Regions from separate parts of the Homo sapiens genome. Here region 2 is linked to region 1. The links come from fine-mapping of genetic effects on gene expression. A gene starts in region 1. The other region holds a variant in brackets. All regions are shown on one strand. Distances are from middle to middle.

The links.
Region 2: its variant is fine-mapped to the expression of CA8 in whole blood (TOPMed, PIP above 0.99).

What each region holds. Positions count from the first base shown.
Region 1 is chr8:60,276,742-60,285,300 of GRCh38, reverse strand. CA8 (carbonic anhydrase 8) reads left to right here and starts at 3,901. Exons shown (of 9, transcript NM_004056.6): 1 at 3,901-4,253; 2 at 5,421-5,612. The coding sequence starts at 4,154. LOC105375864 (a long non-coding RNA gene) reads left to right here. Exons shown (of 7, transcript XR_001745925.1): 7 at 169-336. RefSeq lists a cis regulatory region at 1-441, a silencer at 3,718-3,926 and an enhancer at 3,919-4,425.
Region 2 is chr8:60,310,752-60,319,310 of GRCh38, reverse strand. All of the region lies in intron 5 of LOC105375864 (a long non-coding RNA gene), which reads left to right. Among named protein-coding and RNA genes, the nearest start is that of CA8, 34 kb to the right of the region's middle. The variant T/C (reference allele first, on the strand shown) is at 5,079.

The sequences.
Region 1 (8,559 bases):
TACTAGACTGTTTGGTTTCTTTGCAGGCCAGAGATACTTTTTTTTTTTCTTTGAAGAAAAAGATAAAGGCAAAAACAGCATTTGAGCAAATAAAAATTATCCTTGAACTCACCTTTACTTGATGGGCTACTATGTCTGTTTTTGATAACGCCTAAATCTTTCTTCTAGGAAATGGCACGTGCCACCTCTACTCATATTTAATTCGTCAAAGAAGTCACATGGTCAAGCAGTGAAGGGGCAGCAAATGATAGAGACAATGATGTCATCTCCAATGACTACATGGAGCCCTAGTCGTTTGTTTCTGAAGATAAAAGACCAAGAAGAGGTCAAAAAAAAGGAGGCTCGTAAATGTAACTTTAAGCAGGTGAAATAAAAGATTAATCAGTTGAAAAAAGTAATTTAAAAGGAAGAAGTAAATTTTTTTATCAACAAAGTTTGAAACCTTCAGAAATCAAAATATATATAATGAAGAAAATTTTGCTGTCTTTCCTGACAAAAGAAAAACTAGACATAAGGAATTAAACAACCATAGGAAAAAGTGCCTTACCTGAGACATAAGCCTAGAGAAGTGCTTATTTTTAGTGTATCTGAATTGGTTTTGGCAGTCACAGATGGCATTTAAGGGAGCAAATAGATCCGCAATGAGCACTTGCATGATTCGGCATCTTTGTTCACACCTGGAATGTTATTTGCTCACATGCTGCCCACCCAAACTCTGCCCATTTCCTCTAGTTTGCCCCAAATGCCATCTTGTTCAACTTTTCTAAATCATTCCCATTAGTATGAAAATTCCATCTTCCTTAGATGTAGTGGTACCTGCATTTCTATTTAACATATTAATATTGCGTATTGCCTTGTATTATAATTATTTACCCCTCTCCTCCCTCCAGAGAACCATGAGTTCCTTGAGAGCAGAAGAAGTATTTTATTTTTTATTTTTGGTTCTCCCACAGTGCCTAGTCCAGAGCAGCGCACATGAAGGAACCCAATTCATTGCTGTTGAAGTTTATGAATTACAGTTTGTATAGGAGCCACGTGACATGCATATGTTAGCTGTACCCTTGAGGTGATCCCAGAGCATAAGATGCACATAAGAGGAGGTCAAATTTATGACTCTAGGGCCTAGACTCACCGATACAATAAGAAAGCTTTGGTACGGTAGACAAGCAGTGAGGAAAGACAGGAGCGGGCTGTCTAGGTTGTGGACTCTGGGAAGCGACCTTAGTACTTTGGTTCCTCTGACATCTAGATTAGTTTGTCCCTTTTAGATATTTCTATTTATATTCTCTTAGTATCAAATGGTAGTTAGTTATATAGGTCTTAGTTTTAATAAATTGTTCTACTAATATGGTTTGGTCTTAGCTATGCAAGCACTAAATGTGAGCAATATAAAGTTAATTTAAGGGATCAAATATAATATTAGGCTGAAAGCCTATTAAAAATTATAGAGGAATATGTGGAAGACACATTCATAATACAGAGTATGAATATTTTTAGATTCTCTGGTATTGGATTTAGATGTGCTTGTTCTATTTTGTAAAACAAAGAATTGCCCTATATCTTTGATCTGTGTGTTTAGATTTTTTTAGTGACAGACACCTTATAATAACTAGAAATAGAAATTCCATCTTTGGTGGTAATATAGTGCAGGGACCTGAGAAGAGAAGGTCTTAAGGTGCTGTTAATTAGCAAAAATCTGAACCCCACAGTCTCAAAGCAATTAAGGCTGTTAATTGAATATTTGGGTGCTTAGAGGATTGGCTCATATGTGGCTGGACAGGGAACCCTAGGCTTGCATACAGGAGTTACATTCTACAAATAATCATGAACAATTCAGAAGGAGCAAATATAGGCCAATGCTAGTAGTCAACTGCATATTTGAATAGTAATACATTGCTGGCTATATGCAAAATTGTCTTTTTACTGTAAAAGTAAATACTAATAATTCAATCTTTCAGCCTATCTTTTGTAAATATGGCACAGTATTTATTCATGGAAAATTCAGTTTTTTACCATGGTGATTGTACCATCCTCTGGTTTGATAAACATCTCTATGATTCACCTGATATTTTAAACACAGTTGGTGGTCACACAATGGCTACAATGTCATACTTAGGCACATTTGGGGGACAGAGGAGAAAGGCCATTGCTGATGAGCTCAGAGTGGCAGTGCTTTTATTATCCAATTCCTTCATAGCCTTTGTATGGGCTTCCTTAGCTGTGGCATTTAATTAACGTGTGAACATACTTCTAAAAAGAAACTTAAAACAAATAGAAGATTACAAAAAAGTTTTCAAGAAAGGAAAAATAAATGTTCCTTTTAGAAGACCTTCAGTGAAAAGTAGTTAATATTTTCAGTAGTGCTTATTATTTTTAATAGCTCTGGCTTTGGGGTAGGCTTCTGCTTCTGCCAGTCCCAGGCTTGCAAAGATGCAAACGACCGTCCACTAAAGAACACCCAGAATGCAGTGAGTGAAAAATGAATTTAGTTTCTCAAACTGTTTCAGTCCTCTGCACAGTTAAGGAAAAGAGAAATTATATGAATGCTTAAAATCCACCGGTTATCCTCCAAGCTAATGTTGGCCAGTAGTTTTCCATATATTTGGTTAAACCTTCCAGAAAGTGGCAGAATTGAGCGAGTTGAGGGTTCCCCCCACTTCTTTCCATCTCAGTGTACTTTCTGGAGCAGTTTGTAATTTTTTTTTTTTAAAAGCTATGAAGTGTCTTTTTAAAAAGTGGAGGTGCTTAGCAGGCAGTAAAGGATATGAGCACTGAAACTAAACATTCCCAAACGGATCATTTCCATCCTTATTTGAGGAATTATGCATTCATAAGGCTGGTGTGATTTAGGAACAGGTTATTCAAAGTGCAAATAGATATCTTCATGAATGACCAGAGCATATAAAAAACAAATTGTACTTAAGGTCCTAACTCGAGTTTATTGTGCACATATATCTTCTAAAAATGTGGAGTTAACCTACTTAGGGGTTACTGACCAGGGCTTTTAAAAGGCACAGGAACAGAGGGCTGAAGTCGTTAACACTAGACTGAGAAGCACGTTTAAGGGTAACAATGCCACCTCTTTGGATCAGAAGAGTTCCTGTTTGTTATGCAATGTGTGCACTTCATTATTTACACGATTTCACTAGGTGAATGGGAGCTGTGTACACAGCCAGGTGAGCCTGCAGCAGCGCCCCAGACTCTGACAGCGAACACCCTCTGTCTACTGCCTTCTGCTAGCCCTGCTTTGAAACAATACCCTTTTCTGGAAAAAAAAAAAAAAAAAACACAACCCTAAATCATAGCTACTTCTCTAGATAACAACCATTTTCTTTTCTTAAACGTTTTTAGGAATTAATAGAACTTTCTTGGAAAAATTTCCAAACTCGTTTCCACTGCGCTGAACGGACGATTTAAAAAGTAAATACTCAGAAGATACTAAGAAGATTCCGCTGGAGAGTCTCTTTTTATTGTGTTACGGGGTCTCCTAGCCCTCTCCTTTCTCCTACCCACGGCAGCCCATCTCTCTCCTCCAGGACCCCTTCTTTTTGGTATTTCCTGGAGTACGGATGAAAATGAATAGGTGAGCAGCCTCTGGGCTAGGCCAGGCACACAGGGGTCCCGAGTGACCTTGGGAGACTTGCGGGCTTCTGGAAGGAAGGCTCGGGCGGCCAAGCAGGAGTCGCCGCAGCGAGGAAGCGCCAGGAGGCGGCGGGGGCGACCCCGGGGGAAGGGCGGGCGGGGATGCGCCGAGGTTTCCGTGACTTGGGACTAGTCGCCCCGAGGCGCATTCTAACTGTCGGCTCCCCTGGCCCCAACGGCCAGAGAGAGAAGGGGGCGGATCCTCGCGTACCAGACACGCCCCGGTCGGGTATAAAATTCGCCAGGCGCTCGCTCCCCAGGCCACAGCCGCTCCCTCGCTCTGCTGGGGCCTCCGGACGCGCTTCCCACGCGGGTCTCTGGAACACTCGGTCCGAACGCACGCCTGCTTGCACTCACACTGCGGTTCACACCCGGAGGCGCTCTCGCACTCACACTGCCGCTCACGCGTGCTCACACTCCCCCACGCGCGCTCCGCTCCGGCTCCAGCCCCGCGCCCAGCGAAGGCGCAGGCACTGCTGCCGAGAGCGCCGAGGGGCCCCGCGGCCTTCCCATGGCGGACCTGAGCTTCATCGAAGATACCGTCGCCTTCCCCGAGAAGGAAGAGGATGAGGAGGAAGAAGAGGAGGGTGTGGAGTGGGGCTACGAGGAAGGTAAGTGGCCGCGAGTCGGGGTGTCCGGGGTCCCGCGGCGGCGTCAGTGTCTCGCCGAGCGCGGGACTCGAGTCCTGCTGCCGCTGCGCGCTCCGAGCACCCCCACGCCCCCTCTTTCCCACGGGGGTCTCTGCCACTTTCCCACTCCCCTGGTGCGTTTCGGGCGGGAGGCGCTCCAGGGAGGCGTGCTCGCCGCCTGCGCTCTTCCGCCGCCTGCGCTCTCACCCGGGAGCCTTCCGCAGGGCTGGCGTTCGCACCTGCTGCGGTCCGGAGGGCGGGCTAGCCTCCAAGCCGTGGCTGTACCTTTTATGTCTTCTGAGTAGTCAAGAAGAGCAGCGGTACATTTTACTAAACACCTGAGGAAGACAGTGTTAGCGTGAAGAATTCGTTTTTGGCTTGGAGACTTTGGGGAGAAAGTGTTTCTGCCTCTGGTCTTTTCGTGAAGCCTGCTAGCAATGCTCAAGTCTTTCTAAAACATGTCCTAAATTTCAGACTGAATCATTGGGTTTGGCGAGAAGCGGTTGACTTTCTGAAAAACTCGAGTTTCCTAGATTTATTCCTAAAGACCTAGGGCTCCTATTAGAGCCAACCAGTAGTGCTGATGTTTACTACATATGTTGAAACCAATATAGAATATATAATTTTAATTATAAAAAATTTGGAAAGACTATGGGAATATGTATGTACACAGATATATACATATGCACACTTTAAAATACTACACTTGCATTTCTGATAAGGGGCGTCTATTTACTAGCATGAGAGTTAGGGTTCTGACTGTCACTAAGTATGTTGAAAGTTACAGCTGTTTCCCAGGTACTGAACGTAATTGAACTAATAAGCAGAAGAAATTGTTCTGGTATTCTTTTTTCCTAATCACTTAAAAATGACCCAAATTTCCTAGAATCATAAATTATTATGTCTTTGTTGACAAATACAAATAGAATATTTTGCTAGTCCGGGATTTTGTGTATGGTATTTGATAATAACAGATCATTCAAATAATGAATGCAAAAACAAATAGAATTACCATATTTCATCTGTATAGTGATGGTATCATTACTCTCTTCATGATATCAAGGGTTCTAAGTGTTTAGTTTTTACATGTTAAATTTTACTGTAATTTATTTTTTAACCTGTTTTTAATTTATTTCATTTTGTTCTTAGGTGTTGAGTGGGGTCTGGTGTTTCCTGATGCTAATGGGGAATACCAGTCTCCTATTAACCTAAACTCAAGAGAGGCTAGGTATGACCCCTCGCTGTTGGATGTCCGCCTCTCCCCAAATTATGTGGTGTGCCGAGACTGTGAAGTCACCAATGATGGACATACCATTCAGGTTATCCTGAAGTCAAAATCAGGTATTTTAGAAAATATGTTTGTGTGGTCTTTTAAACTAGAAGTCAGCGTAGAGTTATTGAACTGTGATTTAACTTGCACAATTTAAAAAGTACAACTGACGTATCTCTATTTTCAGGATACCTTTGTATTATAATATAAAGCATTTTTGGGAATTACCTTCTGAAACAATTTTGAAAGGACAAAAGAGTGAAATTATGAAGATTATCAGTCGGTTGTTCTGCTTCTTATGATGTTACTGGAAAAACCTTAGTTTGATCACCTTATACCTTGTGAAATATGAGGACAGGTACATGCAGGTGCAGTAATCTGCGTTTTGTCCAAAATTGTTGATTAGCTTAAATCACTTAGATAATCATAATTCTCTGTTTTGCTACTTTGTGAAACCAAAGATTAGAATTTATTGACATAACGTGGCATTCAAGGTAGACTTCTCAGGTTAATTTTCTCTACTGTATTAGTTTGCCAAAAATAATTTTAACTAATAACAATAAGAAACAGCCTCTAAACTCAGCCAGAGATTTAAATGGTAAACAAACCTCTTCCTTTTATTTATTTATTTATTTATTTATTTAAGTTCCATCCCATGAAACTTCTCCTACCACTTGCAAACCTATTTGAGATGGATCTGAAATGTTCTGTGCAAAAGTTGTTAGGTAATTACCAAGGAAATCAGTTTTTGGCTTTATCGTAGGAAAGAGGAAATCAGATTTTTAAAAAATGTAGCATTAATAGCATGCATTTCATAGTGAATAATAACTGTCTTTTTCTTTTGGGAAAAATTAAAGTATGTTGAAATATTAGGACGTACTTGATAAATAGAGACTGTGCTCGAAAATTAATTCCAAGTTGATAAAGTTGATACCTCAAACTATAAAATCTTTAGGTTTGTTATTAATCAAGGCAGCTGTTGATTTCCAGCTATGGATTTATTTTATTCATTGTAAATGTTTCTAAGCTTTAATTTAGAATCCATGAGATAGTCATAGATTCATGTAGTCTCCTTCGCTGTTCTGAGTTTAGTCAGCATGTGAGCATTGCCCAAAAGAGTTACTGGGCTTTATATGTACTTAGTCAGAGTCAGTTTAAGATGGAAATTTCGACTTGAATTTTTTTGGGGGTGTGGGTTTAGCTTTGATGGGACATTACTTACTGTTTTTTAAAGGATATTGTAAAATTATTGAATGCTGACTGTTCTGGCATATAAAAAGCAATTTAAAGAAGTACATGTGTGTTGATGTGTTGAGATGCTTTGAACTTCCGGAAATAAATGTTTATATATCCACAAAACAAAAATACATTTCATGTCAGGTGCCATGATCAATATTGGTTGCATATAAATTTATAAGACAGTTCTTGAGGATTCATAGCCTAGTGAAAAGCCAGTTCTTTAAAGTACTAGTGTACACTTGATGTGGCAAGTGTTACAAAGGGTTGTGGGAGCAGAGAGCAATGACTAAGCACATATACTCCACTGCATCTGTGTGTGCCTAGTCCTGCTCTGAGATAAAATTTACTTCATCAATTTGAACTTACCATTTTCTTCTGCTACCTTCTCAAACACAATTTTCTTTAATCTTCTGCCTCACTCTAAAACAGAGACTATGGACCAACATCTGGGCCCTCTCACCATGAAGTGTGTTTCTTCCTCACCTAGCATTTTGTGCTTTTCTCTTCCTCCTTCTTCCACCCCTGCCCACTGAAGAAGAAGTGTCTGCACTTCTGTCTAGGCCTGATTTGGATACTCATGATCCAGAACCCTTTTTTCCTGCCTCCCTGGAGACCTTCCTCCTTCAGATTCCCCTTATCCTCTCTGTCATGGTAATAATTTCCTCCTTATTGTTCTTTCCCTTCCAATATTTCTGCAAACTCAAGAAAAGTAACCAAAATAACCATGTCTTGAGTAGTTGTTTTTTCCCCTAGGATATTTAAGCTCCTCAGAGGAACCATTTGTAAGCTCTATATACCCTGTCATTCGCTTATTTAAATAATGTTTTATCTTTATCAAAATAGAATATATACAAAATAGTTGAATAGGCTGGGTGTGATGGCTCACAAGTGTAATCCCAGCACTTTGGGAGGCTGAGGTGGGTGGATCAGTGGAGGTCAGGAGTTCGACACCAGCCTGACCAACATGGTGAAACCCCATCTCTACTAAAAAATCCAAAAATTAGCTGGGCATGGTGGCACACGCCTGTAATCCCAGCTACTTGGGGCGTTGAGGCAGGAGAATCACTTGAACCTGGGAGGCGGAGGTTGCAGTGAGCCGAGATTGCGCCATTGCTCTCCAGCCTGGGCGACAAAAGCAAAACTCCGTCTCAAAAAAAAAAAGGTGAATAATACTCTTTCTGCCTGTGGTTCTTTCTGCCTGTGGTTATCCCCTGCTCTTCCCCACCTACGGCTGCTGTTCCCTAGTAACAACTACTTTGAAACTTTCTAGCTGTTTCTCCTGTGGTTACCTCCAAGAATGTAAGAATATAATAATGCTGTTATGCTTTGGTAGTAAGCTATGTATGAACTCTCTACTATTGAAGACGAGGCCAATTTTCTTTCCTTTTTTTTTTTTTCTTTTGAGACAGAGTCTCGCTCTGTCGCCTAGGCTGGAGTGCAATGGTGCGTCTTGACTCACTGCAATCTCCACCTCCCAGGTTCAAGTGATTCTCTTGCCTCAGCCTCCCCAAGTAGCTGGGATTACAGGCGCCCGCCACCACACCAAGCTAATTTTTGTATTTTTAGTAGAGACGAGGTTTCACCATGTTGGTCAGGCTGGTCTCAAACTCCTGACCTCAGGTGATCCGCCCACCTCGGCCTCCCAAAGTGCTGGGATTACAGGTATGAGCCACAGCACCTGGACGAGGCCAGTTTTCTTATTGCCCTCTTTCTTATGATTTCACTCTCGTATTATCGCTGTATACTTAAATTAATTTTAAAAATCTGTATACATTTAGG
Region 2 (8,559 bases), 34 kb before region 1:
CCTTCCTTCCTTCCTTCCTTCCTTCTTTCTTTCTTTCTTTCTTTCTTTCTATCTTTCTTTCTTTCTTTCTTCTTTTTTTGAGATGGAATCTCACTCTGTCACTCAGGCTGGAGTGCAGTGGTGCTATCTTGGCTGACTGCAACCTCCGCCTCCTGGGTTCAAGTGATTCTCCTTCTTCAGCCTCCTGAGTAGCTGAGACTGTAGGCACGTGCCACCATGCCTGGTTAATTTTAGTATTTTTAGTAGAGATGGGGTTTCACCATGTTGGCCAGGCTGGTCTCAAACTCCTGACCTCAGGTGATCCTCCCGCCTTGGCCTCCCAAAGTGCTGGGATTACAGGTGTGAGCCACTGCACCCGGCCCTGAATCATGCTTTCTAAACCTTTAGAGACTCAGTTTTCTCATCTATAAAATGGGAATGATAACAATACTATCCCATTGGATTGTTAATTGAATTAACAATTATAGAATGCTTAGAACAGTGACTGGCACACAGCAATTAAGCACCATATAAGCATTGGTCAAATATATTTTCCAAAGTTAAGTGTAACATAATTAACAAATTCTAGAACTTCTTTAAATAATCAACGGAATAATTCCCAAAGCCCATTCGACCAATTTTTCCACATTCTAACCCACTATTCTCTCAACCCTACTTCTAGGCTGCCTCTGAGCTTTGCATATAAGCTTTGTGCTTATTAACCCTGCAGTGCAATTATTTGTTTATTGTCTGGCACAAGAAGGAGATCAACAAATGCTTGTAAAGTAAATGGATAGATATTTGATTTGTCATTATTTCCAAATCTTTCTCAAAGCCCAGATATTTCTTTGTTTTTCTCATGCATTTTCCTCCTTGTATTGTTAAAGAACAGAATATGCTACCCCAAAATATGACTATGAAGTAATTCGGGATGTGCCACCCAAAAATATGCCACTCTTTGATTATTTTAAGCTGAAGGCATTTGAAAAACAGCAAATTCAGGGAGAGGCTTTCTCTGAACTCTGCTTATCTGCTTAAAGACAGATCTTCCAAAAGGATCTCAATTGTCATAAATCCCCTCTCCAGGAAATTTTATCAACCAGAGAAGACTGACTCTTCTCACAGCAGAGGAGACTAGAAGTTGACACTAAATCCAGAAAAACGTTGTCCCAAACGATCATATCTCCTATCTCTTCTTCTACTGCCCCTCATCTTTCCTAAATACCATTTACTCTCCACGTGACCTATATCTGCCTCCCCTTACCCTTTTAAGATAGTATATAAGCTTTCAAATCTCACTGCTTTTCGAGTACTCACTTTCTTTTTCTGTGATGACCCATGCATATAATATTTAAAATTCATACTTTTGTATATCTTTAAGAAATATTATTTTAGATTCAGGGGGTACATGTGCAGGTTTGTCACATGGATGTATTACATAATGGTGAGGTTTGGGCTTCTAGTATACCCATCACTCAAATAGTGAACACTGTACACAATAGGTGATTCTCCAATTCTCACTCCCTTCCTGCTCTCCCTGCTTTTGGGGTCTGCAGCATCTATTATTTTCATCTTTATATCCGTGTATACCATTGTTTAACTTCCTCTTATAAGTGAGAACATGCAGTATTTGATTTTCTGTTTCTGAGTTATTTCACTTAGGATAATGACCTCAGGTTCACCCATGTTGCTGTAAAGGACATTATTTCATTCTTTTTTATGGCTGTCTAGTATTCCATGGTGTACACATACACATTTTCTTTATCCATTTAACCATTGATGGACATTTAGGTTGATTCCATGACTTTGCTACTGTGAATAGTGCCACCATAAACATATGAGTGTGGGTGTCTCTCTATATAATGATTTATTTTCCTTTGGGTAGATAACCAGTCATGGGGTTGCTGGGAAGAATGGTAGTCCTACTTTTAGTTCCTTGAGAAATCTCCATACTGTTTTCCATAGAGGTCATACTGATTTAACATTTCTACCAACAGTGTATAAGCATTCTCTTTTCTCTGCATCCACACCAACATCTGTTGTTTTACTCTGGAAAAAACCCAAAAAAATTCAGGCATCTGAAAATAGGTATTGTTAAAGAAAAAAATTATTCAATGACACTTGTCATAGCACAGTAAGGCAGACTTTATTCAGGTCCACCGCAATAGGTATGGGGACCACAGCGATGGGGTATTGCAGTGAAGGAGAGAGACTGGGCTCAACTCTGAGTACAGCATGGGCAAGTGGGACCATAGAGCCAAGGAGCAGGGTAGGGGTCAGCAAATGGAAAAATTACCAAGAGGGAATCTCTGGGGTAAGGTGAATTCAGGCTAAACTGACTTAGCAGGGGTCTTGCGAAAACTGGATTTTACATGGAAGTGCACAGATGGGCCTAGAAGAATATTCAGAAGGCTGAGTAGAGTTTGGCCAAGCAAAGATTCTTTGTCTGTATCTATGAGGCCTCTAAAAAGGAAAGCAGAGTAAGCTCGGAATAATTTTTAAATGATTCCAAAAAAATAGGTGCATGGAGACTAGATTTTTATAAAGGTCAACAGCTTTGAAAACTTCATTCTGTTAAAATCAAGATAATCAGTTTCCCAAGTGATCTCTAAGAATAATATAGGAAGTCATGGGGCTGAATAATAATAATAGTAGTAATAATTAGTGGTCACCCCCAAAAAGTAGGTGCATGGAGCTTCTACATATCTTTTGTAAAGAGGTGGGAGTCACAGAAATGAATGACACGAAAATTGTGAGATAGGCAGGAAGTCGCACTCCTAGGTACTGAGGACGTTCTCTGCACTGACACACCTTAGCAGACCTTCAGACAGACTTAATGGGGAAGCCAAAGAAGCTTATGCTCAGGGCCCATCACTTTCACAGGGTACCTTGCAAGGCCCTTGGAGAGGCTCTAGCAATTTTATATTCTTAATTTTATATTATTTTGAGGAGAGTAATTTTAGTGAAGTATGTGTAACATTGTATAAAGAAAAATGGACAATTTTGCATTATTCTGTTATTGAGCAAATGGTCTCACTGCTTGATGTAATTAGAAGCCATACTACGGCACCAGCTTTTGAGATAAAAAACAATTCATTGAGAGGCTGACACAGAAGGCATGGCTGAAATCTGTCTCCCAAATTTGAGTCTGCGGCAAGTTTCAAGGGATTGGAAGGCAGAAAGGATTTTGGTGTGGTAAGGTCTGATTGGAGAGCTTCAAATGTGACTATTTTTGGTAAGGTACGTTGAGGCTGATTTTAGCCCTGGATCTTCCTGGCCGTCAGACCCCCTCGCTTTTGAAATGGTTCTGATGTTCAGGTTCTGGTTGTGTCCTGGTCTTCCTGGTTCCGTGGGGAGGAATTGTTGGTTTTGGATGTCAGAGGTCAAATCTTTCCTATTGTACATGCCTGGGCCATATGACTTGCAGTCTTGGCTCTGTTATATCTACAAGGTACTTAGACATTCTATTATCAATAGAGTAGGCCCAGTTTGAGATGCTCCTGTGGTTACTACCATTCTTCCTGGAGAGGACCGCTTACAGCCTCCCAGCCCCAGTTGTGTAAGTTTCCCACAAACCTGCATCAGCCTCAGCTGGATTGTGCTTCTGCAGAGAAACCCTTGTACTCCCTTCTCTCTCCCCTATTCCGGCCGTGAAAGCAGGTTCTGCTTACCAAAGTCCTCTGAGTTCTGAGCGGTTTTGGATTCTGGTTTGTTCTTTGATAAAGACATAAATGACAGGACAATTGTTTCCTTGGGCTGGAGTAATGAGCTCACATTCTCAACATTAAACTTAAAAGAAATAAATATTTAAAAATCTAGCATTCGTGTTACAAAATAAAGGCATAAGATATGAGAAACTTGGCTACAGTATCATCTGTGAAGAAAATAATTGTTTTGTTTCACTCTGTACTCAAAGTGTCAATAGTGCTAATGAGGTTATTAAAAAGCTCTCGAGTTCCCACCACACGTAGAGTCACCAGGCAAGCAGGAAGGGTCCACTGCGTTCTGGGAACCTGTTTCCTGAGGGTTAAAAGCATAATTTTCAGAAATGTAAAATCACAAAAATAAAATAAATGTGTCAAATATTTTATTTAACTCATTAATTAAAAACCATTTAAAATGAGATTTTGATTTGCAGAGATTTATATTCTCTGCCAGACAAAATTCATTTGCATTGTCATGCACGGGTATCATTTGCATAGCTATGGGCAGGAAACATTTGCATCGTTATCCATTTTCTATAACTTAAACCCTATTCCAACAGAGTTGTAAAATAGCCTAGTCAATCACAGGCAATTGAAAGTGCACGTCCTGTGGAATTAGAGAATCCCAGAGGGTCTGCTAACAATGTCCTGCCCTCCACTGAAAGGACACCAGGAATCACTTTGGTCTGTTTCTAAGACTTGGACCATTTTTTTACGTGAGATATATTATGAAGAGAAGAATGTTTATCCAGAGTGTAACCAGGAGAGCAGAAGCTCTTGAAATTATGTATTAATATTATGTGGACACACGATAGGACCAGGAATATTTTCAGCCGGGCAAAGATGAGATGCACTGTGGACAGTGATCCAAGTTATAAAATACTAAAGAACTGTCATGAAGCAAAGCGCTGTCCTTATTTTGTGTAGTTCCAGAGGTCAGAACCAGAGTAAACGGGGTTGGGGGTAGGGGTAGGAGGGGGTAAGAAGCTACAGCAAAGCAGATCTTAATATATGAAAAACTTATTAAGAAATGGGAGTTTTGGGCCAGGTGTGGTGGCTCATGCCTGTAGTCCTAGCACTTTGGGAGGCTCAGATGGGTGGATCACTTGAGGTCAGGAGTTCAAGACCAGCTTGGCCAACACAGTGAAACCCTGTCTCTACTGAAAAAAAAAAAAGAATTAGCCGGGCGTGGTGGCATGTACCTGTAATCCCAGCTACTTGGGAGGCTGAGGCAGGAGGATCACTTGAACCTGGGAGGTGGAGGTTACAATGAGCCTAGATCATGCTAAAACACTTCAGCCTGGGTGACAGAGGGAGACTCTGTCTCAAAAAAAAAAAAAAAAAGAAAAAGAAAAGAAAAAGAAATAGAAGTTTTGATTTGTGGGTTCTCTGTCA[T/C]TGAAAATGTTCAAGCAGAAGTTATATAATCTTTTATAGGAATGTGAAAGGAAAATATCTTGGGCCCATGAGGGAAGGCAGGTAACTCCTTTATGGAGTTTAAGCTCACTTCCAACAGAGAAGATGAGTGTGTGTGTGTGTGTGTGTGTGTGTGTGTGTTGTTGTTGTTGTTGTTTTTCCTGCTTCTAGGATGGTAGAGAGCAGTCTTCTGCCTGAAACCCATTCCTAGATAAGTAACTGAATTAGGGTTTAGCTTGGCTAAAGTTAAGATTAACAACCAACTGGTCTACATGTCAGAGGCATTTGAACCAGAGCAACTCCATCTTGAGTAGAGGCTGGGTAAAATGAGGCTGAGACCAATTGGGCTGGATTTCCAGATGGTTGGGCATTCTAAGTCACAAGATGAGATAGGAGGTCAGCACAAGACAGATCATAAAGGCCTTGCTGATAAAATAGTTTGCAGTAAAGAAGCTTGTCAAATCCCACCAAAACCAAGATGGTAACAAAAGTGACCTCTGATCGTCCTCACTGCTACACTCACATCAGTGCCATGACAGTTTGTAAATGCCATGGCAATGTAAGGAAGTTACCCTATATGATCTAAAAAGGAGAGGCATGAATAATCCACCCCTTGTTTAGCACATAATGAAGAAATAACCATAAAAATGGGCAACCAGCAGCCCTCAGGGCTGCTCTGTCTGTGGAGTAGGCATTCTTCTACTCCTTTCTTTTTTTTTTTTCCTTTTTTTTTTTGAGATGGAGTCTCACTCTGTCACCTGGGCTAGAATGCAGCGGTGTGATCTCAGGTCCATGCAATTTCTGCCTCCCTGGTTCAAGCGATTCTCCTGCCTCAACCTCCCGAGCAGCTGAGACTACAGGCACGTGCCACTACACCTGGCTAATTTTTGTATTTTTAGTAGAGACGGGGTTTCACCATATTGGCCAGGCTGGTCTCAAACTCTTGACCTCAGGTGATCTGCCCACCTTGGCCTCCAGAGTGCTGGGATTACAGGTGTCAGCCACTGCGCCCAGCCTACTCCTTTATTTTCTTAATAAACTTGCTTTTATGTTACTCTATGGACTAACCCTGAATTCTTTCCTGCACGAGATCCAAGAACCCTGTCTTGGAGCCTGGATCTGGCCCCCTTTCCTGTAACATGAATTTCTCCTTACCATTAGAGGGTTCAGTGATCATGTTGTTGGGGCTTTGTTGTTTGTTCCCATTTAAAGTTGTTGTTTAAGGATCCTAATTCTAGTTTGGAGATGCATTTGAAAGGTCTTCTCTATTGCTTTTTGTCCCAAATTTTTAATCTTAATTGAGTTTGTCTGTGTGCATTTGCATGAGGAACTAAACTGTTGTTTTGATATGTTAATGAGAGACTGAGTTTTCTTAGCCCTGAAGAGAAGGGGCATTTTGCTCCTTCCAGCTGAAAGGCTTCCCTGGGTGACCGGGGGCCCCATGGGAGTGTCTGGGAGGTTGACCACCCCATGACGTGCAGCAGCCCTGCAAGGGAATCCCCAACAAAAATTAATTTTATAAATGGCTCATCTAGGTAACACATGTAAGGGCTAATCATCTGGTGTTTTGAGCCCTCTCTGAGGTCACAGACCTCTGGAGGGAGAAACTGAGACATATAAAAGGGTTGAAACTACTCAGTGGTGACACACTGTGGAGTCCTGCCCACAAGCAGCACATGTTGATCCACCACACAAAAACCATGGACCATAGCTCAGTTCCTCCCTTAAAAAAAAAAAAAAAGAAAGAAAAAAAATGGGAAACAATCTAAGAATGATGAGAAAACAAGGAGAATGACCCCCTTTTGAGCAGTCTGTAGGTTTTATGGCACCTCTACTTGCCAAAATAATATGGTCTTTGTGCACATTTACATTAAGGAAAAAAGAGCCCTTGGCTGGGCGTGGTGGCTCACCCCTGTAATCCTAGCACTTTGGGAGGCTGAGGTGGGTGGATCTCCTGAGGTCAGGAGTTCAAGACCAGCCTGGCCAACATGGCGAAATCCCATCTCTACTAAAAATACAAAAATTATCCGGGCATGGTGGTGCATGCCTGTAATCCCAGCTACTCAGGAGGTGAGGAAGGAGAATCACTTGAACCCAGAGATGGAGGTTGCAGTGAGCCGAGATCACGCTGTTGCACTCCAGCCTGCGTGACAGGAGTGAGACTCCATCTCAAAAAACAAAACAAAACAAAACAAAAGCCCTAAGTGTCAGGCCTCTGAGCCCAAGCTAAGCCATCATATCCCTTGTGACCTGCACGAATGCATCCAGATGGCCTGAAGAAAGTGAAGAATCACAAAAGAAGTAAAAATGGCTGGTTCCTGCCTTAACTGATGACATTCCACCATTGTGATTTGTTCCTGCCCCACCTTAACTGAGCAATTAACCTTGTGAAATTCCTTCTCCTGGCTCAGAAGCTCCCCCACTGAGCACCTGGTGACCCCCCACTCTGCCCACCAAAGAACAACCCCCTTAGACTGTAATTTTCCACTACCCACCCAAATCCTATAAAACGGCCCCACACCTATCTCATCTCCCTTCACTGACTCTCTTTTCGGACTCAGCCTGCCTGCACCCAGGTGATTAAAAAGCTTTATTACTCACACAAAGCCTGTTTGGTGGTCTCTTCACACGGACGCTCTTGACATTTGGTGCCATGACTTGGATCGGGAGACCTCCCTTGGGAGATCAATCCCCTGTCCTCCTGCTCTTTGCTCCATGAGAAAGATGCACCTGTGACCTCAGGTCCTCAGACCAACCAGCCCAAGGAACATCTCACCAATTTTAAATCAGGTAAGTGGCCTCTTTTTATTCTCTTATCCAGCCTCTCTCACTATCCCTCAACCTCTTTCTCCTTTCAATCTTGGCACCATCCTTCAATCTCTCCCTTCTTTTAATTTCAGCTCCTTTCCTTTTCTGGTAGAGACAGAGAAGATGTGTTTTATCCATGAACCCAAAACTCTGGCGCCAGTCACGGACTCAGGAAGACAGTCTTCCCTTGGTGTTTAATCACTGCGGGGAGGCCTGCTTGATTATTTACCTACGTTTCAGAGGTGTCTAATCACTGCAGGGACACCTGCCTTGATCCTTCACCCTTAGTAGCAAGCACCACTTTCCTGGGGGGCAAGCACCCCCCACCCCTTCTCCCATGTCTCTACCCTCTCATCTCTGGGCTTGTCTCCTTCACTATAGGCAACCTTCCACCCTCCATTCCTCCTTCTTCTCCCTTAGCCTGTGTTTTCAAGAACTTAAAAGCTCTTCAACTCACACTTGACCTAAAACCTAAACACCTATTTTCTTCTTGACCGCTTGACCCCAATACAAACCCGACAATGGTTCCAAATAGCTAGAAAATGGCACTTTCAATTTCTCCATCCTACAAGATCTAGATACTTCTTGTCATAAAATGGGCAAAAGGTCTGAGGTGCCTGACGTCCAGGCATTCTTTTACACATTGGTCCCTCCC